Regions from separate parts of the Homo sapiens genome. Here regions 1, 2, 4, 5 and 6 are each reported to be linked to region 3. The links are microRNA targets in miRTarBase. Many come from high-throughput screens and were not tested one by one. Region 3 holds a microRNA gene; each other region holds the end of a gene's coding sequence. Distances are from middle to middle.

The links. The annotated mature microRNA hsa-miR-4695-5p reads CAGGAGGCAGUGGGCGAGCAGG and lies in region 3 at 2,484-2,505, shown strand. An mRNA with a match to its seed (bases 2 to 7 or 8) in the 3' UTR can be bound and repressed. Matches are read on the target gene's strand: a 7mer-m8 pairs with bases 2 to 8, a 7mer-A1 pairs with bases 2 to 7 and ends in A, and an 8mer does both.
Region 1: the mRNA of SLX4IP is a reported target of hsa-miR-4695-5p. Seed matches in the 3' UTR shown: 7mer-m8 at 3,123-3,129 and 7mer-m8 at 3,155-3,161.
Region 2: the mRNA of ENTPD5 is a reported target of hsa-miR-4695-5p. Seed matches in the 3' UTR shown: 7mer-m8 at 3,416-3,422.
Region 4: the mRNA of TIAL1 is a reported target of hsa-miR-4695-5p. The part of its 3' UTR that is shown has no 7-base or 8-base seed match.
Region 5: miRTarBase lists ZCCHC4 as a target of hsa-miR-4695-5p. Seed matches in the 3' UTR shown: 7mer-m8 at 3,630-3,636.
Region 6: the mRNA of STUM is a reported target of hsa-miR-4695-5p. Seed matches in the 3' UTR shown: 7mer-m8 at 3,788-3,794, 7mer-A1 at 746-752 and 7mer-m8 at 62-68.

What each region holds. Positions count from the first base shown.
Region 1 is chr20:10,622,979-10,628,051 of GRCh38, forward strand. It overlaps SLX4IP (SLX4 interacting protein), which reads left to right. Exons shown (of 8, transcript NM_001009608.3): 8 at 1-5,052. The coding sequence ends at 401. Among named protein-coding and RNA genes, the nearest start is that of MIR6870, 24 kb to the right of the region's middle.
Region 2 is chr14:73,962,201-73,967,271 of GRCh38, forward strand. It overlaps ENTPD5 (ectonucleoside triphosphate diphosphohydrolase 5 (inactive)), which reads right to left. Exons shown (of 16, transcript NM_001249.5): 16 at 1,030-4,814. The coding sequence ends at 4,728. It overlaps COQ6 (coenzyme Q6, monooxygenase), which reads left to right. Exons shown (of 12, transcript NM_182476.3): 12 at 770-1,470. The coding sequence ends at 799. Among named protein-coding and RNA genes, the nearest start is that of COQ6, 14 kb to the left of the region's middle.
Region 3 is chr1:18,880,682-18,885,754 of GRCh38, reverse strand. MIR4695 (microRNA 4695) reads left to right here and starts at 2,480; the gene lies at 2,480-2,553. It overlaps ALDH4A1 (aldehyde dehydrogenase 4 family member A1), which reads left to right. Exons shown (of 15, transcript NM_003748.4): 5 at 127-282; 6 at 2,327-2,476; 7 at 2,557-2,631; 8 at 3,868-4,055. RefSeq lists a silencer at 1,395-1,626.
Region 4 is chr10:119,570,905-119,575,977 of GRCh38, reverse strand. TIAL1 (TIA1 cytotoxic granule associated RNA binding protein like 1) reads left to right here. Exons shown (of 12, transcript NM_003252.4): 12 at 187-2,513. The coding sequence ends at 313. Among named protein-coding and RNA genes, the nearest start is that of TIAL1, 24 kb to the left of the region's middle.
Region 5 is chr4:25,368,120-25,373,187 of GRCh38, reverse strand. It overlaps ZCCHC4 (zinc finger CCHC-type containing 4), which reads right to left. Exons shown (of 13, transcript NM_024936.3): 13 at 2,805-4,159. The coding sequence ends at 4,024. Among named protein-coding and RNA genes, the nearest start is that of ANAPC4, 6.6 kb to the left of the region's middle.
Region 6 is chr1:226,601,386-226,606,458 of GRCh38, reverse strand. STUM (stum, mechanosensory transduction mediator homolog) reads right to left here. Exons shown (of 4, transcript NM_001003665.4): 4 at 1-4,453. The coding sequence ends at 4,419. Among named protein-coding and RNA genes, the nearest start is that of STUM, 55 kb to the right of the region's middle. RefSeq lists enhancers at 852-1,531, 1,532-2,211, 3,421-3,956, 3,957-4,493.

The DNA.
Region 1 (5,073 bases), not on the chromosome of region 3:
GTGAGTCAGCATCACCATGTCCAAAACAAAGTCCACGAGTGGCCAAAACCCAACAGAAACGCAGGAACTGCAGCTCTGCGGAAGACTTCGACCACCACGGGAGAGTTTCTCTTGGAAGTGATCGATTAGTCCCGAGAGAAATAATAGTGGAAAAAAGCAAAGCTGTCAGGGTTTTGCCAGCTTCAGAGTTGTCAGATCCAGGGTTACTTTTGAAACAAGATTTGGCAAAAACCACGTCTAAGGAAGAGTTGCATGTTTTGGAAAGTCTCTCCTCCAGACATCTTATGAAAAATAACCCAGGGCAGGCACAGCAAACCGGCTTAGCCACAAACACTGAAAGATTATCTACAATTCAGAACAGCCCAACCAAGAAAAGAAAGAAATACGAAAGAGGCCATTAACACCGAAGAGGTTTGTACCGTTGGAGTTGAGGACATAGTGGCCAAACCTGTGACAAGAGAGCTGCGAATATAGATGCCGGGATTTTAAAGGAATTAATTAGAATGACTAATTTAAATAGGAAGTGTGTTATCTGTGTTATGGCTATGGTTTGTTTTCAAAGCATTTCAAACCGGGAGGCTATATGCTTGTTCTAACAGCGTTGCTTCTTTATCATTGTATTTTATGACTGTCTTCAGAGAATTAGTAATGACAAAGAGCCATCCACCTTGTCAGGGAGGAGACTGTGCAAGGACTGCATGAAGAAACTGATCATGAGCCCCTTCTTGGCACATCACTGTGCAGACCACACAATGGACCGTGCAAAGACAGTGCTGCCGTGCTGCCTTTCAGCTCCAGGGGTACAATCCATCCCCCTGCTCCTCAGCCTGAGTAGGAGGGCAGTGAAAGAACAAGCTAGTGGTTCTTAGCGCGTGGTCCTGGGACCAGCTTCGTTGTCTGGAAATGTGCTAGAAATGTGGTTATTGGGCCCTGCCCCATGCTGAGTAACTGCCTTTGGGTGATTCTGAAACATGCTCGCGTTTGAGAACCACTGGACTAATAGAACACTCCCCAGTGCTTCCTGCAGCCTGGTTGCCATGGCCTCCAGCTCACCAGTTGGGGCCAGATGTGCACATGCATCCCCTCGGACTCCCTCAAACTCGTAAAACACTTGGGTTTGGTGTATGGGTCACTCTCTTCCGGGTTCTACAGTATGGCAGCCATGGCACCCATGAAGGTGTTACTTTCCCTTATAATTGTTGAAGTCGATGGGCGATTCTGCCCAACCTTAGGAGAAGACATCAGAGAGGCTCGTTGTTGCCTGTAGCTCAAGCATGTCCCAGTCCCTGCTCTTGCACCCACCTCCAGGATTTTGGTTTGGGACAGACTATAACCTAACAGGAACTCAGTGACCAGGTTCCAGTTTCCCAGTTGGAAGGCTTCGCAGGCAGTTCAAATTTCAAGATGGGAGCCTTCCCTTTACAATGTCACCCACTGTCTCCAGTGGGCTTGATGAAATGTCACATAGTGAATTGTAGCAATGACTTATTTTGGATGGACACCCGCTAAAAGTTTCCAATAACCGAATTTCACTCTAAAAGAGGAAAGAAACAATATTCAAGGTCCATTCATTCAATACATCTTTTTTTTTTTTCTGTTCAACATGGGGTGGTCCTTTGAAATGGCACCTCCCCTAAGTAATAAGGAAAACCAAGTATATTCCCTAAAGTGTTGAAGTTAGCAGAAAAATCACCCAGAAAAGCCCAAAACAATGACAAGAGTACAGAAACAGGCATAGTGTAGGTTCATGCTTGAGATGGATTAGTGGTTTATTCCATCCCGTTCTATCCTTTCCCGTATCTCCTGTCCCCACTTGTTAAGACCAGTAAGACTCATGAAGCAGCAGCTATATTTCATGGCACCATTTTGGGTCATGAAATTCCATCTTGGTCACCAAGCCTGACTGTGGTGGTAGATACTGTTACTTTAATGTTCCAAACCCTGCCTAGAAACCTGTTCCTGTCCCATGATCCCAGCCTCACCACCCCCACTTGAAACAGCCCTTCCTACTGGTATCCTGTCCTCTTCCCTCTTGGCTTTTTTCCTGCTCCCAGCGGAACCCAGTCAGGGGATTCTATAGGAGAAGAGGGAGCCCAACAGAATACTAACTTCAGTGGAGCTGACTCTGCTTATACAATAGGGGTGGGCTGCACAGAGTGGAAACCGAGTACCTGGTAGAATGTGCATTTCCATGGCCCACTGTAGGCGCCTCTCTTAGAGCAAACAGTATTTTAGGTGTGCTCTTTATTGAACACAGGACCACAGTGTGTCACTGAATCTTCTTAAACAGAAGCAATTAGAACGATTTAGATATAGGGAGGGCACAAGTAATAAGTAACCCAGGGGATAGACCAAGAAGCAGCTCTCTGGAAGAGTCTGGAATTAAAAAGACGGCTGTACTAGAACAGTAGCCACTGCCTGCTCCAGAACTAGGGGGGAGATATTTGAGCTGGAGCCACCAGAGAACATTTCTATTGAGAAGTTTTTATTTGTTTGTTCTGTTGGTTTTTTGTTATTTCTGTTTTCTTCTAATCTTTCTCTGAAGTATCACTCTGGTATTGAGAAATTTTTATTTCATTAGCTAACCTGGGCTTGGTGGTTAAGGCTAGTACTTGTACTTAGAATGATTCTCTGTCAGGAAAAGTCTTGGCTTTAGAGTTTGTTATAGTTGGGGATATAACAATTACTGTGATCGAAGAGAAAAAATAGCACCTTTGGTTGTAGATAGATGTAGTTTTCCTCACAGCCCTCACGTCCCTTCATGTAAAAGGGATTTTAACAGGATTTACAGAGGGAATGGCTCTCAGTTCCCACACTGTGACATGTGTTTGAGGAATTTTGCCTTTAAGCATTTTTCTTGCACATGGCTGAAACACCCCTGGCTCTCTTGTTATTTGAGTGGTTGCATGATTCTTTGGATATTTGGAAGTACAAAGGGGTAAATGGATGCCAGGGGTTTTTTGTTGTTGTTGCTTATTAGGTAGGATATGAAGAGTTCTCACTGTTGGGAATGGTATGTGTTTTGACATTCTTTTTTTTTTTTTTTTTTTTTTTGAGACAGAGTCTCGCTCTGTCGCCCAGGCTGGAGTGCAGTGGGGCGATCTTGGCTCACTGCAAGCTCCGCCTCCTGGGTTCACGTCATTCTCCTGTCTCAGCCTCCTGAGTAGCTGGGACTACAGACGCTCGCCACCACGCCCGGCTAATTTTTTGTATTTTTTTTTTTTTTTTTTTTTTTTTAGCAGAAACGGGTTTTCACCGTGTTGGCCAGGGTGGTCTCGATCTCCTGACTCGTGATCCGCCCGCCTCGGCCTCCCAAAGTGCTGGGATTACAGGTGAGAGCCACCGCACCCGGCCTGTTTTGACATTCTTAATGATCTTAATAATTTGGCATCTGAAAGTCTGAAACAGTGTCAGTATTGTTAGTCAAAAAGAACAAGTTCTTCAACCACTTGCGTAGTACCCCAAATTATATTCAAGTCCCTGTGACTCCAATGCTTGGAGAAGTCATTGATATGATTTGATTAATGTTATAACTTTGAATTTCCTAACTTTCTCAGCGGCATAGATTCTAAGCCACTTCCATGTGCTTTCAGATGGCATCTTAATAGATTGGTGTTGAGGTTATTTTAATGTCCATAAACAAGAAAGGTCTGGGAACAATCTGTATGATTTTTCTTTCACATTTTCTTATCTTTGCCACTGGAGGTTAACTGTCGTCCAGATATGCATATGAATTGTGAAATGCAAAGAAGCAAACATTTGGGGGTAGGGGAGTAAGTGCTGTAGTTCTTTTGTTCACTTATTTTAATACTATAGAAGTGTATTTCATTTTATAAAAAGCAAGAATCATAAAAACCCTCTGTATTTTGATTTATGAAGAATATAGCTTCTCTCTGAAGTATCTCAAGATATATCTTGGGGACCACAATGGGATCACAGTGTAATTGTTTGCTGTTGGTGTCATGTTTGGATTTTAGCATGGTTTGTTATGCATGTCAGTGGCCTCTGATTTCAGAAAGAGCTTGGCGAGGGCAGAACACATAAGGGAAGGAAACCTCTGCTCAAGAGAGTGGCCTGGGATCACAGTGTCGTCATTCCCAATTTCCTTGAATTCCTTCTTGGCAGACCTTACTGTAATATTACACAAAACTGTAATGAGTGGCCCTCCTTTGGAGGTAACAGATGCCTTTCCTAAGAACTCAAAGTTCTCTTTTCAGCGTGCTGTGACTTGAATATGGAAATCATTTTAATTTCTTCTTTTCTCTTATGGGGAAATTTCCATGCTTGGTTTGTCAAGACAAGAGAATTCATTCCTTATTATTGAAACATTAATGAACTGAAACACGTTGAAGCAAGTAAAAAATCAAAATTAGGTTGGTTTATCTTAAATAGTTAAAAGCCTTCCTTAGTACAAAATAAATTAAGCATTGTAAAACGAAGTTAATTCAGGTAATTACTCAGTACAGAAATCTAACCGTATATATCATTGGTATTGCAATTTAAGGGTATAATTAAATTCTCAGAAATCTGCAGGACTCACTCTAATTTGCTTTCTATATTTATTTACAAGACAGGGAACAAATATGTGTCAATGTGCAGCTTAACAGAGGGGACTTGAATGGATAAAATTATCTTTAATTATCTAGAGCTACCCAGTACTGGGCTTGAATTTAATCATAGTCAAATGTTTCCTCTGGCAGCATAATATTACCATACACCATATTACCTTATAATTGCCATTACAGTTCCTTATCAAAAATGTTAATTCTTTGCTTGAGCAAAAATCAATAAAACCTTATGTTTGACCCTAAAGTATTTGATCAGGGAACAGAAGGTGTGAATTGGACAGATCCCCCGAATAACTTTCTTCAATCAAGTTGAAAAACCAAACAGCTATGTAAGTCCCCAGGAGAGCTCTTTTTCCCTTATCTTCTCATTTGTTTTGTTATAAACTGTTTAAATAGTTCAAATGGTTGTGCATGCCTAGGGGATGAAACCTATGTAATAGAAATGTACTGTTTTATGAATAAGGAGTAAAATTGTTTTAAAAAATTAATGTGTATCACTTCTGTT
Region 2 (5,071 bases), not on the chromosome of region 3:
CTCCCAAAGTGCTGGGATTACAGGCGTGAGCCACTGCGGCTGGCCCACAGCTCTTAATTTCTTTGAATTAATTTTCTTGGCTGTAAAATTATTATCTTTATGTGTTTGCCTTCCCAAGGGTTACAAGCAGAAGAGTACTTGCTAGGCTTTTAGGTGTTACGGCCCACATCTAAGCAATAACTATGTATAAAAAGGGCTTAAAAATAGTGAATAGGGAGTGTGGTGGCACATGCCTGTAGTCCTAGCTATTCAGGAGACTGAGGCAAGAGGATAATTTAAGCCTAGGAGTTTGAGGCTGCAGTGGGCTATGATCACATCATTGTTACTCAGACTGGGTGACAGAGTTAAGACCAGTCTCTTGAAAAAAAAAAATGAATAGGGATTTCTAATGATGAAGATGTTTAAGCTCCTTTTGCTGCTTGACTAGTTTCATCCCTGAGAACTTCCATTTAAAGATATGTTTTTTCTGATGGGTGCAGTGGCTCACACCTGTAATCCCAGCACTTTATAGGAGGCTGGGGAGGGAGGATTGCTTGAGCCTAGGAGTTTGAGGCTGCAGTGAGCTATGATCACACCACTGCACTCCAGCCCAGTCAACAGAGTGAGACCCTGTCTCTAAAACGTGTGTATATGTATGTATATTTTTCTTTTTTTAGCTGAAATAAAACAAGGACACTTGGGAAGAATACCTACGTGATTATTATCTACAATAATTATTTTCTTCACCTTACTGTGTTAAGAGTTTCATTCACTTTTATTTTTTCTCCAGGAACAGATTATGGCCTTTGCAAGCAAATGAGTACTCCTCTCCTAAAGAAAGATTACGTTGATGAAAAAGAACATCCTGCCCAGGACCCATCATACATATTTTCAAGATCTTATTTAATTTAATAAACTTACTTTACATTAAAATTCTCTTTTTCTTCTTTGCTTAATGGGCCTGTGGCACCCAAATAATGAATGATAATTTGCTGTGAGGAGCGTATATTAGCCAGACCAAAGGAAAAAACTTCGAAGGAAGACTTACAATTTGGTTGAAAAGAGCTTTTTATTACTAAAAAACCCACAAGGTGCTGTCTCACTCATTTCCAGTTAATCATTTCTAAAGAGAAAATTTACATTTTGTTTTTGTTTTAATGTTGGTCATAAATTTATACAGTTGTTTTTTGATAGAGGTAAGAATTAGACTCGATGCATTTTTGTTAGAATTGCTGTTTAAATGTTAACATCAGAATGCAAATTAAATATAAATTGCTTTAACCTTTGTTACAGGTATACTGGACTTTCTGAAAGGAAAACCAGGTCTCATTAATGCTAGTTATTACTTTATCACAGCACCAGATTTCCATTTTATTTATGGTTCCTCTCTGGGACACCACTGTCGGTTTAATAAAACAATAAATAATTCATTGCACAGATCCGAAGACCTCAGGAACCAGATCACAAGGGAAACCGATTAGCAGCAGAATTTGTTCATGTTTGGTGGCAGACTGGTGGCCAACTGGAGGGAGGGGAGTTTTACTGTGGGTTTTTGAAGAGGTCTCGTCACAAGACCAGAGATGCCTCTTGAAGAGATTTTTAGGTTGTAGGTTTGCTTACTCTAAAGAACATCTTGCCCAGAAGTCTGATTTGAGATGAAATGAAGAGAAACAGTCTGCTTTTGAACCAAGTAAGGTATTCTTGGGAATAATTTTTAGAGCCATGAGAAATCTATTCTTACAGGGGTGCTTTTCAGGCAAATGCAGAAAATTTAAAAGAGTCTAGAACAAAAAAGTGACAATGTCACAACCTTGCTGGAATCTCAGGAAAAAGAATTAAAGATGGCAGCTGCTGTGAAAAGCTGTGTGACTCCTGGCGGAGACTGCAGGGACAAGGTCATCTTTCACAAAAAATGGAAAGGTGGCCTAGATGAGGAGGACACAGACTCTCCAGAAGTTATGCAAACAAAATCAGGCAAGATGAAGAATTTTAAGGCACACCTCCATTGGCCCACAGAGAGTGTTCTTCATATGACAATGATGTTAAACACCATCTGTCACGTACCAGGCCATGTCCTAAGTATTTTAAATATGTTAACACATCTACAAAGAGGAAACTATTAGAATCTGTAGGACCTCTTAAGCCCAAAGGGTCTACTGCAGGCAGGATGGGCGTTACAGAAAAAAATAAAAACTCTCATTCCAAATTGCTCCTAAGATGGACAAATTGGTTACTTCTCCAGAAGGTCTAATCAAGGTTAACAAAATAGGTAAGTTCGTGGAGTTAGAATGCATCTTCCCTGGAGTTCAGAGGTATTTGGGATGACCAAAGGAGTCTGCTGGACAGTATGTGTGTTTTACAAAATGGCCCCCACAGTGATTAAAGACCAGAGACTTATATCTCTGCATTTGTCAAGCTGGAACAGTCTTTAGTGAACACAGCTTACCTCTTTTAAAACTGCTGGTTTCTACTGAAGGAAACATGGATGACATTTAGTGTTCTGTGACTGGTCTGGCACCCTACTTTTGTTGACAAAGATGGGAAGGGGTCTAAAAGTCATGTCACTTATAAAAGAACTTGGGAGGAACTTTTTTCAAAAGATCCAAAGATTTTGGAAGGAGAGATTAGAGCAGAACTAAGACCACTTAGAAGATAGGTAGATTTCAGCTCAATATAAGGAATTTTTTTTAATATCAGTGCAGTTCCAAATGGAATAAGCTGTTTGAACATGGCTTAGCAGAAGCTGAATGACAACCTGTTAGAAATTCTAGGGAATTCTGCACTGAGTACAACATTGGATTATTTCTTTGGGCTGTTTCCAACTCAAGATTCTGTTATTTCATTATAAGCATTTTGAGGAAGGCAGTTGGTATAAAGGTGACCTTAGTAATAAAAGTCAGTGTGAAGTCTAAAGAAATTCCACAATGAATTTAAAGACAAGAATTTTAGGGACAAGGATACAGAAATTTGCCTAGTAACTTGCACACAGCAGATGGTAAATATTTATTGACTCAATGGAGTAATGTTAAAAATAAGGTTTCCCATGGACTGTGTGAGGGCCAGGCATACTTAACATCCTTTGTGAGAGAGAGGATGGAAACGGAGTCTACTGTGAAAGCCACAAGTTTTGGGGAAATACACTCCTGCAAAGAAGCTGGAGGTTAACAACCAAGGCAAAGGGGCCAGACCACAGGGAGATCTTCCAGGTCCAAGAGCACTGCAGGGCAGATGAGAAGCAGGGATGATTATGTTGAAAGTGCAAGATAAGGCCAGGCGCGGTGTCTCATGCCTGTAATCCCAGCACTTTGGGAAGCGGGTGGATCAATTGAGATCAGGAGTTGGAAACCAGCCTGGCCAACATGGTGAAACCCCATCTCTACTACAAATACAAAAATTAGCCAGGAATGGTGGTGGGCACCTGTAATCCCAGCTCTTCAGGAGGCTGAGAACAAGAATCGCTTGAACCTGGGGGCGGAGGTTGCAGTGAGCTGAGATTGCGCCACTCCACTCTAGCCTGAGCAACAGAGCAAGACTCCATCTCAAAAAAAAGTGCAAGATAATGAATTTGGGGTAAATAATTCACAGTCAAGAGCTCTGAGCACTTGGATTCAAAAAGAGAGCATGAGGGACATTAAATATGGTTCTCCCTGGAAATGTTGGTCCACTGTACTGATGTGGGCTGAGAGAGCCAACCAAATCCAAGTGGGGTTTTGTCAGGAACGGTATTGGAAACTCTGAACTAGATAAATAATTCAAAGGATATTAGCTAAAGTGATCAGGGACCAGGACAGGAAGGTACTGTTACAAACGGAGAGAATAAAAGGGCAAACTGAAATAATAGATCCTGGAATAGCACAGACACTGACCTCTGACCACAGACCAAAAGTTAGGGCCTAGTTGTATTTCTTAGAAATACAAAGAAAACAAGTTTAGAATCATAGAAAACACTGTTAACACATTAGCCTGGGAGGTGGTACTGGCACTGAATATACACATACCCATAAAGTCGGATATGTTCATTAATCCCAGAGTTGACTGATAAAATGCTGATTAAAGCAAAGGTAGGCTATATGAGGCAGCCACACCCTCCCAAAACATGTCCCCAGAGACCGGGTGGCCTTCTTTCTTAAGGCTGTAATTTATGCACAGTTAGGAGTTACTCTCTCATCCTATTAATATTTAGGATGGCTCTCAGCTGGCTGATTGGAGCTAACACAGAATAGGATCATACAGATTCTGACATGGTCCCATTTTGCGTTGTTGAATTATACATGGAAAGCAAAACCAGGTTTTTTTTTTTCTCTCTTTTTCAGGGGAGGTGGGTGCAGATAAGGGTGGGCAGGGCACTGTATAGGGAGGAAAAAAATACTGATATTGATGGGTCTTGGGATTGCAATAAGTCAGTTTACCATTTAAGAGGAAAATTTAAATATTCAGTGGAATGAGGCACTCAAAGGGTTGAAATGCGATTTTTCTTTGGTTTCCAGGGACCTGTCCCTGGGCTCTCACTCCAAGGTTAAGTTCCAAAACTATACTTTTTGGCTCACAGGGCTCTCTGTGATGCTCTGGTGCCAGCTGTGTACTCTTGAGTGGTTAGGCAGCAGTTCACATTAGATGTGTAAAATTAATTAAACCTAAATCTCTAGGCTCAAGTCCAGGATGTCCCCAGACTAGTTCAGAAACTAAGTGCTCTCTCCTCCCCTTAAAAAGGTGTTGGCAAATGCAGGTCTCCAAGGAAGTACGTGGCCTCAATGGGAGATGCCCAGAGACTGCAACAGGTGAAAGGTGGCCCCCAAGGCCCAGCCCGTCTCTATGTTGTTCACTTTCTTTGTGAGCTGTTGAGAAGAAAAAAAGTCTTCACCTTTTCATCCAGTTTCCAACTCTAGCAAGCACAGCTCTTGGGCAGAAAATATTGGCAAAGAATATCCACATGGGCAAACCAAGGCAAAACGGACAGAAGCCAGTCTTTGCAGGCTTCCCACTACTCTGTAACAATTTCCTTCCGGCCATGGCCCATTGGCCATTGCCCCTACACCCACCATTCTCATATCTGAACTGAATGCTTCTGGCCCAGGTTGTGGCCCATCAGGCC
Region 3 (5,073 bases):
GCCCAGGGAGACAGGCATTGTCCCCGGATGGAAGAGAGTGGCCTCCCAGGTCTCTCCTCCCTCGCTCACTCCCCAGGGCCTTTCCCGCTGCAGGTGGCAGTCCCCAACCTCTCCCTCTCCCTTTAGAGCCTGCTCAACAAAGCCATTGAGGCTGCCCTGGCTGCCCGGAAAGAGTGGGACCTGAAGCCTATTGCAGACCGGGCCCAGATCTTCCTGAAGGCGGCAGACATGCTGAGTGGGCCGCGCAGGGCTGAGATCCTCGCCAAGACCATGGTGGGACAGGTGAGGTGCTGGTGGGCCCGGGTGGGTGGGGCGGGGTGGGGTGGGAGTCAGGTGTGCCCTACCCATGGCAGCAGACATCAGCTGAAGCGCTTCTGGGTCCTAAGCCCTTTTGGGGACCCAGAGATGTCCTCAAGGGACAAGGCCTAGGAGCTGGGATGGATGATCACAGATTATTAGGCGAGACAGATTGTGCAGAGCCCATGTGTCCTGCCTCGGAAATGTCCCCTCTCCTCCATCCCTCTGTCCTCGCTCCTAGGCCTTTGTCATGCTTTGCCTGGACTGGTGGTGGCCTGCACTGTCTCCCTGCCTCCTAGCTTGGTCAGCCCCTCGCCGCCCTCAGAGTGGTCTTTCCAACACCTCCAGGATGTTACTCCTGGCTTATGACCCACCCAGACCTCTCCACCACTGAGAGGCAAGTCCCAAGACCTGAGCCCCATACCCAGGGCCCTTCTGCCCACCTCTGTCCAGCTCGCCCACTGCTCTGCATTTCCCTGCCAAGCTGTCCTGCCCATAGTGTAGCCATTTGGCACTTAGCAGGACTCCCCGGCCATGGCAGGCATCCTCTCTGCCTCTGCCCACGTGTCCTCCTGCCTGGAATGCCTGCTGTCTCTTCCGTGCTCAGTGAACTCTTACCTCCTGGTCCAGCCCAGATGTCACCCCCTCCGTGAGACTTCCTGAGCCTTCTCCAGCCGAAAGGACTATTCCTGCCTCTGTTTCCCCAGAGCATGTTGTTCCTGCATCAGTTACAGCTCAGATTGCACTGGAGTGTATTGAGTTCCTAGGTACTGCCCCTTTACAAGCTTTTTGGACATAGTAAACATGTCTTGACATTCTCGGTCTTTTTCTGGGCTTTGCATGATACCTTTCAGGAGGCATAGCAAGCCCCTGATCAATGGTTTTCTCTGCACAGAGCTGGCATGACAGCTCCTCACCCTGCTAAATGCAAGTTGAGTGAGGAGTGGCTCTAGCAGGCAGAGTGTGCGGGGGACAGGAGTCGAGGGAGAAAGGGTTATTTCACCACCTCCAGGACCTGAGCCCTACGCTGCCAACTAACCTGGGTTCCTGAAGGGTAAATTGCAGGAGCCAGAACCCAGGCTGCTTTCTGGATCAGGCATTTGCCACTGCCTGCTCCTCGGTCCCCATGGTGAGCGCCCCCTCTGCTGCACAGAGCTGGTATGACAGCCCCTCAGCCTGCTAAATGCCTTCTTAGATTGGCTCAGCAGCCCTCTGGGGTGGGCGTCAGCTCTGCGTGTTCCTGGTGAGCCGCACGTTGCTGGGAAGACAGTCTAGGATCAGTTTAGGCTTTCTCTGTATTTGGCCTAAGACTCAGGAACTTCTAGGAAGCAAGGTACACATCTTAGCTCAGCTTCATGGGCTGTGTGTCTCTAATAGGTCGTGCACCTGCCAGTGACCTTGGGTGCCAAGAGGAGGCCACGTCAATCTGGAAAAGCCCCGTTCTTGGCTGTCCACAGTTCTTTTCCCTGCAGCTCACATTTGCTGTTATTAAGAATTGACGGTTTAAGGGAATCACAGTCACTCGCCTCTTGGTTTTTGGCCCAAACTAACCAGCAAGGCCGAACATCATTCCTGGGGAAGGAGCCATCCACCTCCCACACACCGAGTCTCTCTCCTGGTTTTCCAGTGACCAATCTCCAGCTCATGCTAATCTGCCCTTCTGTCTGGAAGGCTCTGATCCTGAATTTAGTCTGAGGCTTGACCATAGATCCTTTGCCATGCACCACCATTCAGAGTTGCTATGAAATGAAGACAGTGCATGGCAAGTACCTGGCCTGCTACAGAGGATCACTAAAATTCTTCTGATCCCCGTCCAGCCCAGAGGGCCGGCTACAGGAGGTGCTAGCTCAGGGGCTTGAGAATCCTTTCCCCCTCAGCCCCTGGGATGGGACCTGGTGAGCCCTCCAAATGTTTCCTGGTCCCTCCTGGGGCCCGGCTCAGTGCTCGCTTTGGGCACAGCGTCAGATGTGAGAAGAGGATGGACAGGAGGCTGTTGGCTGCTCCTGACCCCCGGCCCTCTGCCTTGCAGGGTAAGACCGTGATCCAAGCGGAGATTGACGCTGCAGCGGAACTCATCGACTTCTTCCGGTTCAATGCCAAGTATGCGGTGGAGCTGGAGGGGCAGCAGCCCATCAGCGTGCCCCCGAGCACCAACAGCACGGTGTACCGGGGTCTGGAGGTACCTGCAGGAGGCAGTGGGCGAGCAGGCGGGGCAGCCCAATGCCATGGGCCTGATCTCACCGCTGCCTCCTTCCCCAGGGCTTCGTGGCGGCCATCTCGCCCTTTAACTTCACTGCAATCGGCGGCAACCTGGCGGGGGCACCGGCCCTGATGGTGAGATGTGGGCACAGGTGGGACAGCGGCAGCTGGTTGTCCTCCTGGTCCCAACAGACAGACAGAGGCCACCCTGAGCCCCTTGGGTCTCAGCCTAGTCATGGGGAGAGGCACAGAAGGTGGAGGCAGCTTGGGGCTGTGGGTAGGCTTTGGGACCAGAGACCCAGTTTGAATCCCAGCGTCGTGCCTCTCTGCCTGGGAGACCCTGGCAATCCCTGAACTTCTCTGAGGCACAGTTTCCTCATCTGCAAAGTGGAAATAATAGGAAAGCCTCCATGACTGGGTTGTGAGGCTCAAATGAGACACATCCAGCAGCAGGCAGGGCTGGCCCGGAGCTGGCTGAGTGTTGGTGGCTCTGTTGATGATCATTACCGCTGACCTTCAGTGCTCACCACGTGCCTGCTGCTGTCAAGCACGGCATGGAGATGATCTCATTTCATCCTCTCAGCAGCTTCGAGAGGGAGTTGTGACTCTGCCTCTTTGCCAGATGACAAAACTGAGACACACAGCCGTGACTTACTTGGCAAGACTGAGTGACTAGTAAATAAATGATGGAGCAGAGAAAGATTTGGATGTAGTCTCTCTCGGGGTTGATGGTATTCAAGTCACTCCTCTGCCATTATCGGAGTGAGGTTGGCTATTACTGGATGAAGTCCCAGGCCTGTGGGGGAGGTGCAGCCCAGCTCCCAGACAGCCTGGGTGGGAGAGGTCCACATAGTTGTCGGGAACCCCGAGCCCCAGACAGGGGCACTGGATGCTGATGCCGGAGTGTGTACTAGGGACATGGATGGGGACGTCCTCATGCATCTGTGCACAGACAAACACGGTGCATGGCCAGGCGCCCACGTGCCTGGCTGCTGCACATGCCTGACCCAGGACATGTGCTGAGAGAGCCCGTGTGTACTTGCCCCGCCGCGCCCGGTGAGCACTCAGTGACTCTAGCAGTAAGAACAGACCTGCCTAGGTGATGGCAGGACCGGTTGGTGCAGGCTTCTGGGGAAAGGGAGCCTTGGCCAGAGCGTGGGGCAGATTGGGCTGTGCCGTGGCCTCCTTGGCAGGGACTTTTGGAGATAGGGCCAGACGCCTTGGAGGAGTGGGGTCGGGTAGGGGATGTCCTGGTTGGCACAGAGTCTGGTGGTTCCAGGTGAGGGACAACCATGCTGTAGGGTAGGGTGGGGTGGGGGTTGGGGGCTGGTGGCGCCATCCTCATGCATCACTGAAACACCTCCCGGGCAGGGCAACGTGGTCCTATGGAAGCCCAGTGACACTGCCATGCTGGCCAGCTATGCTGTCTACCGCATCCTTCGGGAGGCTGGCCTGCCCCCCAACATCATCCAGTTTGTGCCAGCTGATGGGCCCCTATTTGGGGACACTGTCACCAGCTCAGAGCACCTCTGTGGCATCAACTTCACAGGCAGTGTGCCGTAAGTCCCTGGGGATGGTGTAGGCTGTGGTGGCTAGGGGACGTTCACCTGCTCACCTGCTGTCTGCCTGGGGATGGGGCTGTGAACCCAGGGGTCATGCACGGACTCTACTCCCTTACTTGCTGTGTGGCTATGAGTGAGCCACTTCACCTCTCTGAGCTTCCATTTCTTCACCTGTACAGGGAGTGATTATCCTTAATTTGCAGAGTCATTGCAAGGATTAAACATGTTAATGAACAGGAAAGAGCTTCGCAGACTGGAAGTGCACCCTACAGCTGTGGGTAATATTGATTTCAGTGCTACCTCTGCTACTGGAAAGGGCACAGGGGAGCACAGAATGAACTGGAGGAGTCAGGAAGCCTTCCTGGAGGAGGTGACATCTAAGCAGAGGAGTTGGCCAGGCAGAGGGGAAGAGGCAGGAGAAGAATATATATGTTGGGAGAGGGAATAGCACATACAATGTTGCCAAGCCAAAAACTTGTGCTCTGGGGCATGGCAGGATCCTGTGTGGCTGGAGTGTGGAGTTTGGGGGCGACAGGGCAAGAGAGTGAGGGCAGGGCATGGTTTGAGTTGAGGTAGGGGAGGCAGGCCACTACCTGATCTCGACCATCCATGCACTCACTGGCTGAGCAGGAAATTTGGAGCTCACACTAAGGCTCAGTGGTGAGCACACACCAGGGACAAGGTCCCGGCTCTCAGGCTGGAGGTGGCGGCAGGGAGTGGTTCAGTGACCATAAGATACTTAGGAGTCTGCAAAGGTGTCTGGCCTTTATCCTGAAGGTGATGGGAGCCATGGAAGGCTTCAAGCAGGGAGAGTGGCTGAGTCAGAGTTCTGTGTCAGGCAGAGATTGCAAATAATGGCCCCCAAATTGGATCTGGCAAGAGGCTCTACTTTCTTTGACTCCTAACAGTGATGGCCCAACTTTGTATAATTGGGACAATTTCATAGATAAATCCAAATATTGGCCTGTCTTGGTCCCCTGGACCTGGATGCTCTGATCTTGCATTTCCTGGTGGT
Region 4 (5,073 bases), not on the chromosome of region 3:
AAAGACTAATACTGGAATATGTATTCTACACATATATCATTTATTTCTTTGATCTTTCTATTTGTTGTAGGTGTGTTGATTTCTGGTTTTCTATTCTGTGATTAGGCTCTGCTTGATTTTTGTGTAAATACATATGTGATTTTTTTTTTCTTGTGTTTGCTGAAGATTTTTTCTTTTTCTTCCAAGTCAATCACCTTCTGCTGCTTGGATGGGTGGATTTGGTGCTCAGCCTCCCCAAGGACAAGCTCCTCCCCCTGTAATACCTCCTCCTAACCAAGCCGGATATGGTATGGCAAGTTACCAAACACAGTGAGCCGGGACTCTAAAAAAAAATTGTAATTCATGATAGGCTTCGATTTCCTGTGACACTCTGAAGACATGAAAGTAGACATCGGAAAATGAAAATATTTATTTTAAAAATTGAAATGTTTGGAACCTTTAGCACAGATTTGCTTTGGTGAAGGACACGTGTCTTCTAGTTCTGCCTTTTTAAGTTTTTGTTCATGATGGATATGAACATGATTTTTCTTTATGTACAAAAACTAAAATAAAGTCAATAAAGACAATTCTGACTACAAATTTTGATATAATAGGAAAAATGGCTAATACATTTTGATTCTTAGATACTATTCCATTTTTATCTTGCTGTTCAGTATTTTAACTCACTGTGTTTTTAAAAGAGCAAAAAAGGGAGGATCGTGAAAACCTGGGAATCACATATAAGTTCATCCTGAATCCTGATACTCCCCTCCCCTTCCCTGAGGTGGACCACATTTGAAGTCAGCAGAGAAAAAGTGTGATATTCAGAAGAAATGCGTGATTTTGGAGTCGCTTTGGAGGAAATATTTTCTTTCTCTATGCCTAAAGAAACTGAAGCCAGACTGAAGTTTTGCACCCTAAAAAAGGAACAGCATTGTTTGAGTTACTTGAGCAAATGTTGGTGGTCCACGTTAAGACATATTTTTAAAACTTCCAAAAGTGTCGATTATTAAAATTGTAGTATTTTACATTTCATTTTGGGGGGAAATCCAAGTATGGTGTTTGTATTGAAGTCAGACAGTCATACTTGTGCTTTTACATGAAGTTTAAATGATACATATTGTAAATATTCAATAACTACAGTGTTTAAAAAGCATGCTTCAACATAGAAGTAGCAGCAATGTAATTATTTGAAGTAACACTTAACACACTCCGCTGCATTGAATGCAGTGGATTGATCAGAATGTTAAGACTGACATTTCCAAGGTTGGCTACTATGTAAAATTAAAATTACACAAATTGTGCAGAAAAAGCCTTAATTTTAATTTCATACAATCTTTGATGCATTAGTATGTTCTAAAATGTCATTGGGAATTAGTTTTTTGTTTTTGTTTTTTTTTTTTTTTTTTTTTGCTTTACATTACTTGGTATGTAAATACCTTGATTAAAACCTTGTAAACCAATTTCAAGGTTACTATAAGTTGTATAGTACAAGTGTTTTTTAAAAATCTTGGGGTGTTTTTAAAAATTAAGATATATTTTGCCCAAGAATTTTTTTAACAAGATTGCTAAAAACATCTTATTTAGACACTTCAATGTACCAATTTATAATTGGATATTCAGTTTAAATAGTACACAGAGTTGTGGCTTTTATTTTCAATTAATTTTTTTCCTTGTGGGCAGTGTGCATGGTATAATAAGCCTGAGCAGAGGCTTAAGTTGTATGTGTGCAGAGTTTGTAAAGGAATCAATTGGAAGATGCAGAAGACCGAGGTTTGCTTTCAAGGTATTTTTCAGGCTGTGTGGGTAAAATTTGCCTCAAATTTCTATCAAACAGGAATGTAAAATAGATAAAATCCTATGTATTTGAATTGTCAGAGCTAGGGAGTGCAAATGTTTTGGCAATGTATTCAAAATGCTGGCCTGGGCACCAAAGAGAAAATAGCCTTTTACAGTTACATAGTAAGATGCGATTAGTACCCACAAATTACTGTTTTCTAAACATTTGAAGTTTTACGATTAGCTTTAAAATAATGATTTTATAAATTGGTGGTCACAATAATTTTGGTATTACTTTCCTCCTTTTCCCACTTAGCAATATAGCCAAATGTATTCAACATAAAAATTCATAGGGTCTGAAATTCATAGCTGGGCCAAATTTTTTATGGCACCTTAGTTTTACCATAATGGTCATCTATTACACTCTTCTGTTATAAAATATACCCTTATTTCTTTTGTTTATAGTATCTTTGAGGAATGTTTTTGGAAAAGTTAATTTATATTTTATAGGGAGAACACTCAATAAATTATGTTAACTGTGCCCCCGAGTTAAAAATTTTATGAGTATATGTGAAACTTGAACAACTGAAGACTTTTTTTAATTGATAAAAATGCTTAGTATGCCTGTTTTGGTCTGCCAGTAAATTAAGTAGCTTATTGAGATAACTAACAGCTAAATATAGCTGTAGTGTTTCCTGACTGTATATTCTATGATTTAATAAAATTATCCAGACTAGTTATATTGCCACAGTAAACATGTGACTGAAGTGTCCTTCATCTTAATCTGAAAGAGGGCAAAATTTCATGATCAGTTAATGGAAGTTATTTCATATTAAGTGGTTTTTTTTTTTTTTTTTTTTTAGATGGAGTCTTGCTCTGTCGCCAGGCTGGAGTACATGTAGTGATGAGAACTTGGCTCACCGCAACCTCTGCTTCCCAGATTCAAGCGATTCTCCTGCCTCAGCCTCCTGAGTAGCTGGGATTACAGTCACGTGCCACCATGCCCAGCTAATTTTTTTGTGTTTTTAGTAGAGATGGGGGTTTCACCATGTTGGCCAGGATGGTCTCGATCTCCTCACCTCGTGATCCGCCCGCCTCAGTCTCCCAAAGTGCTGGGACTACAAGCGTGAGCCACGGTGTCTGGCTTTTTTTTTTTTTTTTTTTTGAGACGGAGTCTTGCCCTGTCGCCAGGCTGGAGTGCAGTGGTGCAATCTCGGCTCACCGCAACCTCCGCCTCCTGGGTTCAAGCTATTCTCCTGCCTCAGCCTCCCGAGTAGCTGGACTACAGATGCATGCCACCATGTCTAGTAAATTTTTGTATTTTTAGTAGAGACAGGGTTTCACCATGTTGGCCAGGATGGTCTCAATCTCCTGACCTCGTGATCCACCCACCTCGGCCTCCCAAGGTGCTGGGATTACAGGCGTGAGCCACTGCACCTGGCCATTAAGTGGTTTTTAAAATACAAAGCTACTTATCCAAATGAAATGTACCATTTAAAAACTACAACTGGGCCGGGCGCAGTGGCTCAGCCTGACCAACATGATGAAACCCTGTCTCCACTAAAAATACAAAATTAAGCGTGGTGGCCCGTGCCTGTAGTCTCAACTACTCAGGAGGCTGAGGCAGGAGAATCTCTTGAACCCAGGAGGCGGAGGTTGCCCTGAGCCAAGATTGTGCTATTGCACTCCACCCTGGGAAATAGAGCAAGACTCCGTCTCAAAAAAAAAAAAAGTGCAACTGTTGCCGGGCATGGTGGTTCACACCTGTAATCCCAGCACTTTGGGAAGCTGAGGCGGGTAGTGGATCACCTAAGGTCAGGAGTTTGAGACCAGCCCAGCCAACATGGTGAAACCCCATCTCTACTAAAAATAACAAAAAAATTAGCTGGGCGTGCTGGTGGGCGCTGGTAGTCCCAGTGACTTGGGAGGCTGAGGCAGGAGAATTGAACCTGGGAGGTGGAGGTTGCAGTGAGCTGAAAATGCGCCACTGCACTCCAGCCTGGGCGACAGAGCGAGACTCCATCTCAAAAAATAAATGAATTAATTAAAAGTATGGCTGTTGAGCTAACAGATGATTTTATAACATGACCCAATGCTATCTTGATCCAACTTAAGCCTAAGAATCGTTGCTCCCCACCCCGTTCATCAAAAACATCAGCAGAGACTTTTTGGGCATGCAAGGAAATGTTTTTTATTTCATAATTATTTTGAGATTTATTTTGGTGATGTGTTTCTGACTGACTGCCATATTCTTTGTTCTCATAATTTCTCTACTAGTATTTTCACTCCCAACCCCCGTGCCATTCCCACTTGATTTTTATGTCTGCTGGCAGTGAGAGGCTAAAATGGCCAACTTAAGCCAAAGCTGTAAACAACAGTTGAAGTAAGTCTTTCAATAAAGACTAGACTATATGATAAGTGGCTTTTTCTTATTGTCGTTTATTACATAATTATTCTACCAGGTTGCCATGAAATAAGCAACTGGGTTTTAAGTTTTCAGTAGTTATGTGGAGTATGTATGTAGTCAGGACCTATTTCCATGTTCTGTGTAAGTGTTAACAAGTCCATTAGCTTTGCTGAATTTAATCTCTGGATATGAAGGAGTAGAAATTTGCATCCTTCTAAAAATGCATGCTCTGTTTAATATTAATATATTAAAATTTATTAATTTGGAGTCCTCAGATACGGGAACTAATTTTACTGTCTAGGTTGCTCTTTGGTAGTATCTATGAGTAAAGATGATACTTGACAAAAATAATTTAATAAATGTTTTAGATACTTTACTAGTATGTCCAAATTAAATTTTCCCTATTAAAAGCATTTGAGCTTCTACTTAATACATTATAAACATTGACTTTGCAATTTTATTACGTATTGGAAAGATGCAAAACCTATTTCCTTTAGACTTTTACTAGTTTTTGTAAGCCTTCACTCTTAAGTGGTCCAAATGAGGGTTTTGCTTAAATGTGTATTCTACTATGTTTAGTAATTAAATATTCTCGTAATTGGCCAGGCACAGTGGCTCACACCTGTAATCCCAGCACTTTGGGAGGCTGGGGTGGGCAGATCACTTGAGGCCGGGAGTTCGATACCAGCCTGGCCAACATGGCAAAACCCCATCTCTACTAAAAATACACAAATTAGCCAGATGTGGTGGCGTGTGTCTGTGATCCCAGTTACTCAGGAGGCTAAGGCAGGAGAATCACTTGAAGCTGGGAGGTGGAGTTTGCAGTGTGCTGAGATTGTGTCACTACAATCCAGCCTGGGCAGCAGAGCAAGACTCTGTCTGAAAAATTAAAATATTCTAGTAATTAT
Region 5 (5,068 bases), not on the chromosome of region 3:
TAAAAACAACACACAAACTGACATTTTTATTTCTCTGGCAACAGATGTACTACTCCAGTGGAGAGACCAACAGGGACATTGTGAAGGCAGTGGCAGCTGACCAGGACCCTTTGTAGGTTGTGATTTTATATTTCAAGATTAGTCAAACTTCTCCCAGATGCCTAGTATTTTGCAGATTACTTTGAAGGGGTCTTGCAGATAAAGCTGAGAGAAGAGAGAAAGAGATCCCCCCCCGTATTGTTCTATATTGTTTTATGCTCAGTACCTGTTTTAAGAAACAAGGAAGCAAAACCAAAGGCAGGCAGCCGGGTGCCAGGCACCAGACCCAAAACCAGGCCTGGGCCTGCCTGACCTTAGCCTGATAGTTAAAATTCAACCCATGACCTAGCAACCGATGTTATCCGTAGATTCCAGACATTGTATGGAAGGACATTGTGAAACTTCTCGTTCTGTTGTTTCACTCTGATTACCGGTGCATGCAGCCCCTGTCACATACCCCCTAGATTGCTCAATCGATCACGGCCCTGTCATGTAAAATCTTTAGTGTTGTGAGCCCTTAAAAGGGACAGAAATTGTGCACTCAACAAACTCGGATTTTAAGACACTAGACTGTCGATGCTTCCAACTGATTAAAAGCTACTTCCTTCACTATCTTGGTGTCTGTGGGGTTTTGTCCACGGCTCATCCTGCTACAAGGCTACTAATCTTCACGCAGCACATCCCCACATTTAAAACTTCAGTTAGGGTGGTCCTCATATTGACTCTAAGTGCCTCCTAATACAAATCTGTTTCCCTTTTCAGTCCCTAGAAGAAACATAATAGAGTGGGTCCAGTCCGTATTTCAGGCATGCCTACCACTTCAAAGCCTCTAGAAAATTCCATGCTTACATCAAATTTTTATTGAGCACCAAAAAGGCACAAGATACACAAGAGCAGATGAAATGGGTGCTGACATTAAGAGACCTAAATCTTTGAGGGAAATAAAATCAGTAAAAATAATCACAGAATAATATGTGAAAGGCCTTAAATGTGGTATCAAACACCAAGGGGCCAAAGAAGGTTTCAGTATCAGGGACTCGTGGAAGATTCCCAAAAGAGAACGGAGTGGCCACATGGAGGGACATATTCCAAGCAGAAAGAACAGTATCGGATGAAAAGAATGGGGCATATGGAGTGATAAACTAGTCTAGGTACTGGACTAATTAGGAAAAAACATGAAATCCAGCCTACAAAAAGACTTTGTTTCTCATTAAATTTCATAATATAAGAAGAATGAAATTTAGCTGTATTTATTAAAAATGTCCTTTTAAAAAGCTTAGAAAATGTTATCTGTCAAATTTTAGGGATTTTCTTCTATTGCTATTTTGAGAAGGTATCTTAATGTTAAGATGTTCAGATTTCTATTAAGAACAAATGACCTCATCCCGCTTCACATTCTACCTCCCAGAGACACATTTTTACAGGCTACCAATTAGTTTATTCTCTGAAAAAGGAATAGAGATTAAGTCCTTAAAATTAGTATTAATTGAATATAAGTGTAAAATCACCAAATTTCCTATTTTTAACTTTCTAAGACAGTAATAAAGTTTTAAAGTACATTATTCCTGGCTGGGTGTGGTGGCTCACGTCTGTAATCCCAGCACTTTGGGAAGCTGAGGCGGGCAGATCACCTGAGATGAGGAGTTTGAGACTCGCCTGGCCAACATGGCGAAACCCAGTCTCTACAAAAATATAAAAATTAGCCGGGTGTGGTGGCACACACCCATAATCCCAGCTACCAGGGAGGCTGAGGCACAAGAATCACTTGAACCCAGGAGGCAGAGGTTGCGGTGAGCAGAGATCCCACCACTGCATTCCAGCCTGTCCAACAAAGCAAGACTCTGTCTCAAAATAAATAAGTACATTATTCCTGATTATAACTATTTCCTCAATTCTAAGATTTTTTTTTTTTTTGCATTTCAGTATTTCTGAAATCAGATGATCTAAAAATTAATTAATGAAGTATTATTTCTCTTCTCCCCCTGAAAAGCTATGATAAAATCAATGATGTATTTTATAATTGATGGTATCTTAACATTAAGGCAATATAGTGATGAGAATAACTGTTGGCCTTCAGAACTCAATTTTTCAGTAGTCATAGTCCCTCAGGTGTCTTAGTTTCAGAGGAGATTTCAATAGATTTTATCATGGAATGGTGAACACCATAAAGTCAGGCAATGTCCCTATCCTTGCTTGAATCAGAGAGGGGAACTCTCACAACGGTTTTACAAACTTCATATCTCACCCAGTCACCTCCAAATGTGCCCCTCCTATCATAGCCCTCCATGTAACAAAAGGGAGAAGAGCTTTCTGATGCTTATGAAGTCCAGGGGTATAACTCATCTTTTGACATCAACTGATGTACACCACTGCCACACTGATCTGGGCCACACTTGAGCATTCTACACCAGGCATCAGTCCTAACTTACCTGGAATTTAAATACCAGATAGAGTGCAGTTCCTCCACCCTTACTTACAGGGCTCTGCCTAACCCCAAACAAAGATGCCTTCAAATCTGCTCTACAGCAGTTGTTTGGAAACAAGAGAAAAGTCATTATGCAAATATAAGTCATTCAAAACAATTCAGTCTTAAGGAGACAATAACTAGCACAGAAACGGGGAGATGAACTGTTTGTTCTGGGAGTTCAAATTACTGCCTTCAATGCTTTGTTATCAGGCCAAAAGGTAATTACCATTAGACCCAGTAACAATCTTCATTGTTAACCTAACACACCAATGACAGAGGAGAACTGAGAGCCAAGCACTTGGGTCTCATTTAATTTAATCACAAAACAAACCTCAGGTATAGCTGTTATTCTCCCCATTATAATAATGATAATAATGAAGAAACCGGGGCTTTTAGAGAGTGACCTGGCCAAGATCATACAGCCAGGAAATATTAAGGGTAGGAATGAGGAGTTTAGTTTGGGCGTTTAATTACCAAACTATCCTGGCTTCTGCTACGAACTACTTTTACAAAGACAGAATCTTACTGCATAGGTTAAACGACACTGGAATGACAGAGCAAGTCGTAGTTCTAAACATCTCACTCATTCAACAAGCATTTAAGTGATTCTAGACCGTCAGAGGACAACTGCAAAAAGTACTTGAAGAATAAATATTTAATAATAATGTAATTATAATTATAATCTGTATATCTAAACAGTGCCTTTGTAAAAACCCTTTCCATCATCTTCAAATTCAGTCTAAAAATAATTGTACGCTATACTTTTCAAGTGGGGTTTAAACTATTGTTTCATATTTAACATAAAATATTTTCCTATTTAAATTAACATACTTTTATGTTCACGGTAAACAAACTGCATAGGTTTTCACTTTCATTTTCTTCTGACATCTTCTGCAAAAGAATGGTCTGCCCATTTTTTGGATAAAAAGGCTAGAATAATGTGACCGGAGCTGGGTGAGGTGGCTCATGCCTGTAATCCCAGCACTTTGGGAGGCCAAGGCAGGCAAATCACTTGAGGCCAGGAGTTCGAGACCAGCCTGGCCAACATGGTGAAACCCCGTCTCTACTAAAAATACAAAAATTAGCCAGTCGTGGTGGCATGTGCCTATAATTCCAGCTACTCAGGAGGCTAAGGCAGGAGAATTGCTTGAACCCGGGAGGCAGAGGTTGCAGTGAGCTGAGGTTGTGCCATTGCACTCTAGCCTGGGAGACAGAGCAAGACTCCATCTCAAAAAAAATGAAAACATAAAAATAGAACAATGTGACTGGGAGAGACTTAAAGTGAGGAAAAATGAATGCTGAAAGAACTAGTAAACTGGCTGAAGATGGAACAACTCCCCATGTCTCCAGAGAGGCAGATAAGGGACTGTAAACCAGCAAATGCCACCTGCCTGTTATCTAGCTCAGAAAGGTGCACACCTCTGGAAGCAGCTGAATTTAAGTCCAGTGTGGCACTTTCAGAAAATGGCATCAAAGGTTGGACCATAAATCTTTCTTATTCTCCAGTCACTGGACATTTAAGAGCCAAGATATTGATGGGCTCTTTCCCTCCTTTTCTTTCTCCTTGTAGCAGATGTATGATTCATGGATTGTCCTTTCGTGGTCTCCATTTTCATCTTATTACTTTTTCTTTGCTTCTGCTTTCTGACAGCTCTGGAAAACAAGGTGCTAAATTATTTCACAGAATGAGCACAGTGAATTATGTAATTATGTTGAAGTTTAATTAACTAGCTAACCAAATAAGAAAATAGAAGAAGGGAAAGAATCTACTGTATTGCAAGCATAAATCCTCAGTCTCCTAACCATAACAACAAGGGAAGAGTCAGAGGCCTAACCAAGCAAAATGTTTGAGAAAAAAAAATTCTTTAAAAGATGGTTACTATGGATTTAGAACAAGCTGTCCGGGGCAAACACACCACAGAGGTAAATGCAAAGCTAGTGAGATTGGACTTTTTAAAAAAGTTTTTTGTACATCTGTATTGCTCAACTCAGCACTTCAATCTCCAAATCCTTGAATTCCGTTTTTTTTGGAGAGGAGCTGATACATGGGGCAGTCAGCAGAGACAGAAAAATGAAACAGCACAATGGAAAAAACCGAGAAGCCTTGAAAGGGCCTGTTTCCTAAGTCGTACAGATTTTCCTTTCCTCAGCGGATCTAAAAGTCCTGACAAGTGCCACGCAGGGTTATCAGCATTTTGTGGTCCTTATCTTGAAGATTAGCTTCAAAATAAACAAGCTGGAACTCACCCTCTGAAAACACTGAACCACACCAGACAAAACAGATTCTTTGTTTCTGGTGTTCTCCACACTAAGTTACAGGCGACCTGCAGCTGAGAAAATGACTGGCCCATCCATTCACTTCTCCAAGCTAGCAGAATCATGCCATGACACTCAACATATTGAGAACCAAGGAAGGGGCCAGAGCTACAACAATGCCAAACCAGGACTCCTCCCCTGATTACCCAGCAATATCAATTGTTAGGTTCACCTCTCATAAGCTTCTCCATAGGAAAAGCTTATTCTTGATCTTGTCAGGAATAAACCTGGGAAAAGAGCTTCATA
Region 6 (5,073 bases), 210 Mb from region 3:
ATAAGAAACAGCCAATGCAATTAAAGCCTAAGGTGGGCCTGGGAGCCTAGAAGGGACCCTGAGGAGGCCTGGCTCTCCACCCTCAAGCCTAGGGGTTGGATCTGGCAAAACTGAAGTGAATTCTCAGAATTGCAGGCATCTGGGCAGGGAAGGGGTTAGCTAAAGAACATGTTTCAGGGTTTTTGGCTTTGTGGGTGTTTTGTATTTTAAAGAGCCACGCTGGTGCAGAAAGACCAGGGCCCTATCAGCTTCCCCTCCTCAAGAACCTCGGGCCTTCGGAAGGCCTTTGACCCGGTCCTGGGGTTTCAGACCCACTTTGTGCTGCCTTACACTTGGTGTTGGGATCTGTGCCTGGCTTTTCTTTTTGAGAGCCGGACCCCTTTGCCCTCCAGGGGAAAAGTTAACCATGTGGCTTTTTTTCTTTCTGCAGTTCCTTTCTGTAGCATCCTCCTTACTGCTTCCGAGCCCTGGGCATCCTGCATGAGGCGGAGTTCATCTCACACCTCTGAGATGCCTGTGCCAGCATGGCTGGAGCCCCTGGCTGGCAGAGCGGGCAACTTGGTCCTGCACATTAGGATGGGGAAGCTCCTAATACCAGCTGTCTCTCTGCCGCCATCCCCCAACACCCTCAGGAAGGGGCACCTTTCTGGGCCTGCCTAAAGGAGGGAGCATGGGTGTGAGGGCTGCCCAGGCAGGTGGGAGTACGGAGCCTTGTGGGGCAGGGTGGAGGCGTCCAGGACCTTCCTAGGAGGTTTTGCCCAACTCCCCCTAAGTGATGACAGGTCTCAGGAGGGGGCCGCCCCCACATATGGGAGGGAGAAGCTTATTTTCCCAGCTTGGGGTGGGGGCGGCTGCTGAGGGGATGGAGAAGAGATGGTAATTTATGTTGCATGTTTAGTGACACAATCCAGACACAGGTGGGATTGTATCACTAAACATGTGACATAATCACCCTATTACTCCTGAGGGGTGAGGACCCCTCCACAGGACCTGCTCTGGGCTGCATGCGATTCTGCTCCTTCTTCTGGGAGTGCTGTAGTGAGTGTGTGGACGGCACAGGCTGTGGGGGCGGCCCAACCTGGCCACTTGCCTGTCCTGCCACTTAGGAGCTGAGTGTTTGGGGGCACATGACTTACTCTCTCGGAGCTTCTCCTCTGACATCTGAAACTCACAAAGGCATCTCCCCTCCCAGGAGCTAAAATGCCCTGCACTGTGCCTGGGTGAGGCTGCTCTTGGGGCTGGATGTGTGGGTCTGGGGCAGCTGAGGGTGGGAACCATGCTGCCTGCCCCTTCCTTACCATGGGAAGGTCAGCGGCGTGGCAGGCTGGGGTAGGCTCTGGCAGCAGAGCCATCAGACTCCTGCCGCTCCCATGGGGACCTGGCCTTCTCAGCCTGAGATCCTTGGTTCTGAAACTGACTCAGAGCTCAACATCCAAATCAACAGTCTCCGCCGTCCACAGGACACACCCAGGCCACCCACAGCTCACTCTGGCTCTAGGGTCCCACTCTGACCCAAGGGAATGACCACCCTGATCCCAGTGTCACAGTTTGGTACTGGGAGCATCTCATTGCCTCTGACTTTCTCTGCAAGCCTGTAATTCCTGCCCTAAACACCCACAGCCAGGGAATGTCCTATTGAATTCCGACCGACAAAAGGCCCCAACCTGGAATGTGCCCTGCAGCCTCTGAACCAACAGCCTTGTCTGCACTATGCAGGCAAAGCCCAGCTTTGTCACCAAAGGGCTGTGTGTCAACCATGCACTTGCCTGCACGAGAACCCTAATTTTCAGCTGGCTGGTGTTTGAGAAGTTAACTCTGGCCCTGGTCTGAGTGGCCAGCTGGAACTATTTGGAGTAAATCAGCCACTGTCCCTTATCTACTGAAGATGATCATGCTGAGACCACGGTCTAATTTAGAGGGGCGGGGGCGCTATTTTGAACCGGTCCCGCCCACATGGCAACCCTCACAGCCTCATTCAGGAGACAGGCAGGGGCCTCTTGGCTTCTCCCACACATCAGTTACCCGGAAAGGGGCCTCCTCCTGAGGCTGATGTTTTCCCAGGTTTAGAGACGCAGCCCTCGGGGGAGAGGAGGATCTGGGGGCGCAGTGGCCCTCCACACACACAAACACACAAACCCCTGTATTAAACCATCCCACACGGGACCCAGGGTGACACCTGCCACTCAAGAAAGTCCCACCTGCATCTGGATTGTGTCACTAAACATGCGACATAAATTGCTATCTCTTCTTCACCCCCTCAGCAGCCGCCCCCAGCCCAAGCGGGGAAAATAAGCTTCCGCCTCCCATTTGTGGGGGCGGCCCCCTCCTGAGACCTGTCATCACTCAGGGGGTGTCGGGCAAACTCTGGGGGCTGTGTGGGGTGAAGGGCTGTGGGCTGGTGGGCATGGGAGGGGGCGGCTTCCTGCAGCTGAAGCTATTTTATCTGAGTAGAGGGGCAGCTCCACTCTGACGCAGCTTCCTCGAGAGCAGCCAGCACCAGCCTGGAGGATGCCTGCTGCACACAGCAGAAGGTTCTAGCTTTTTAGAGAAAACCAAATCTGTTCCCACACCTTGAAGATACAGAGGCTTCCAAACAGGAGAGAAGAAGGCAAAGGCCTGGGTTGGGGTCTGTAAGAAGAGAGGACAGGACGCGACAAAGACACTGCCAGGTGTTCAAAAACGGCAGCCCAGCCCCAGGCAGCAATGGAAGACGGACAGTAGCTAAGGGATCCATGATAAGGGGTGGGCAGCAGGGCCCGCTTCTCAGGCAGGACTGTGATTAGAAAGCCCGGTGGATGGGGTAGGTGGGCTGAAACCCCCAGAACGGTGGCCACTACTTCCCAAGCACTTTCATCCTGCAAAATCCCTTCTCCTGCCCTCATGGAGTTCTGACAGTCTCTGATAGACAAACAAGCCCTTCAGAGAGGGACATGCCCAATGGCACTGTGTCAAGTGGAGTCAGAAGCTTGACTTTGGGCCAGCCCCATCTGTTAGCATTTCCTATGTTAGAATGAAAATGAAAGGAAAGGAAACAGACATGTAAATGTCCATCCTCTTAGTATCTAATTTCTCTTAATTTCAGATTGATACTTGATCCACAGTATCCTGGACAACTTCTGCTAGATTCTCCCCACCCCTAGCCCCCATTAGGGATCTAGCCCTGTCCCAATCACTTACAGAGGGGCTCCTTAAAGAGGCCCATGGTCTTTTGGCAACTGAAGGAGTCCTTGTGTAATGCCGACAATTTCACCCTCTAACACATCTGTTTGCAAGCAGGATTTTCAGATCAAGGTCCACAACCCCATACAATTGTTCTTGCAATTCTGAAACCCTAAAAGCTCTCAAATGGTAAGTTTTTCCCTAAGTTACTTAGTGGCAAAATTAGACTGAACTGAGGTGAGGCTATTTACAGTTTGTATAGCTCCCAGTTAATGGGACTAGTCACATGTTTCTCTGCAGAAATATTCACGTGCCTGATGGTAGGCGAGATGTTCCACACTCTGCCGGGAAGTTAGAAAGTGTACGATAAATGGATCGCATTGTCTTTCTCAAATCTAAAATTTCTCAATTCGGAGACACATCTGGCCCCAATGACTTCAGAAAAAGGAATGTGGGCCAGAAATGCTGTTAAGTATTGGGTGAAAGCCTGCTAGTCTGCCCACTCCTGCTTCAGTCTAATAACTTTGTGTATAAACATCTGGCAGTTTCACCCCAGGGAAGGAGCTACTCCTCTCCTTCCCAGGAAAACACAGGTCACGACACACCCAGCCCTCAGATTTCAGCTGCGAGGAGGCGGGGGGTGCGGTCAGGGAGGCAGGCCCAGGAGACGCCTGTGGGACTGGTCTTCTCCCCGAGGCCTCAGGCCAGCTGTGGGCACAGTGGGCCTTTCCACGCTAGGGTGGAGCCTGGCCATCCTCACCCACACCCTGGTGCTGCCCCCAGGAGACCACACAGTAAACACTCGGGGCACCAGATTTTGAGGCAGGTGGGGTCCCACAGGACGGGTCTACCACAGTCCTGTCCCCTTGGTGAGCCCCTGCTCACCCAGACAGGGCCCGGTGTGGCCCGGCCCAGCAGACGTGGCGTGCCTTTGCGGTGGGCAGTGGGTACAGCAAGGCCAGTTGGAGCCTGCCGGAGCATCCCAGCCTCTCTGTGGGCGTTCTCATCTCCACCCCACTCTCTGATGCTCTGGTGCCTGCGCCCACAGTGCTTTCCAGAGCAGGAGGGGCTGGCAGCCCTCACAACCTGCTGAGAAAAGCAGATGCGTTTTCAAAATAAATAATATTTTTAAAAATACCCCCTTTCCACCCCCAGTCCAGAAAATGGCAGAAAAGAACATGTAAAGGTCCTTGTGCCCAAAGCTGCCTGGTGCAGCCCTCACAGGGCCCCCCTGGATCTCCCCAGCGGCTCCCGTGGGCTCACAGCTGCTGTGGGATGCCCTGCTCCTTGTAGCCTGTGAGGAAGAAGCAAAGGAGAGATGGTTAGACACCTGCTTACTTCAGGATTTCTCCAGGAGGTGCCCCTAGCCCAGAATGCACACAGGAGGCATTGTTTATACTAAGGTGTAAATGACTGCTACCATCAGAGCACAACTTTTCCCAAGGGCTTTGACTTTCTAATGGGAAACAAAAGAATGAATCAGGAAATGTGGAGTACTGGGTCTACTGGGAATGTATGACGGGCGGGCATTTGGGGTGGGAGCTAAAAGGCTATCGACATGCTCCTGAACCCACATCTGGAAGCCGCTTACAGACTGGTCTGGTGTGCTTTCCCAGTGCAGAGCCTTGGGAGCAGGTGCCAGGCAGGCTTCCCCGAAGGTTGGGCATCTGGTATGGGTGGATAGAAGGAGGAAGAAAGGAGGAAGATGGCATACAGAGGGGAGCAGCCATCCCTGTGTGCGTCCAACCTGCTGGACGGTTACGGCAGGAAAGGGCGCCTGAAGGCTAAACCTTTAAAACATTGTTGATCATGAGTCCTTTGGGAAAAAGTGAGCTCTGTGGATAGTAAGGAATTGTTACTGCTTTATTTAGGTGTGAAAGGGTATTGTGTTTGTTTTCTTAAGAAGATACCCTT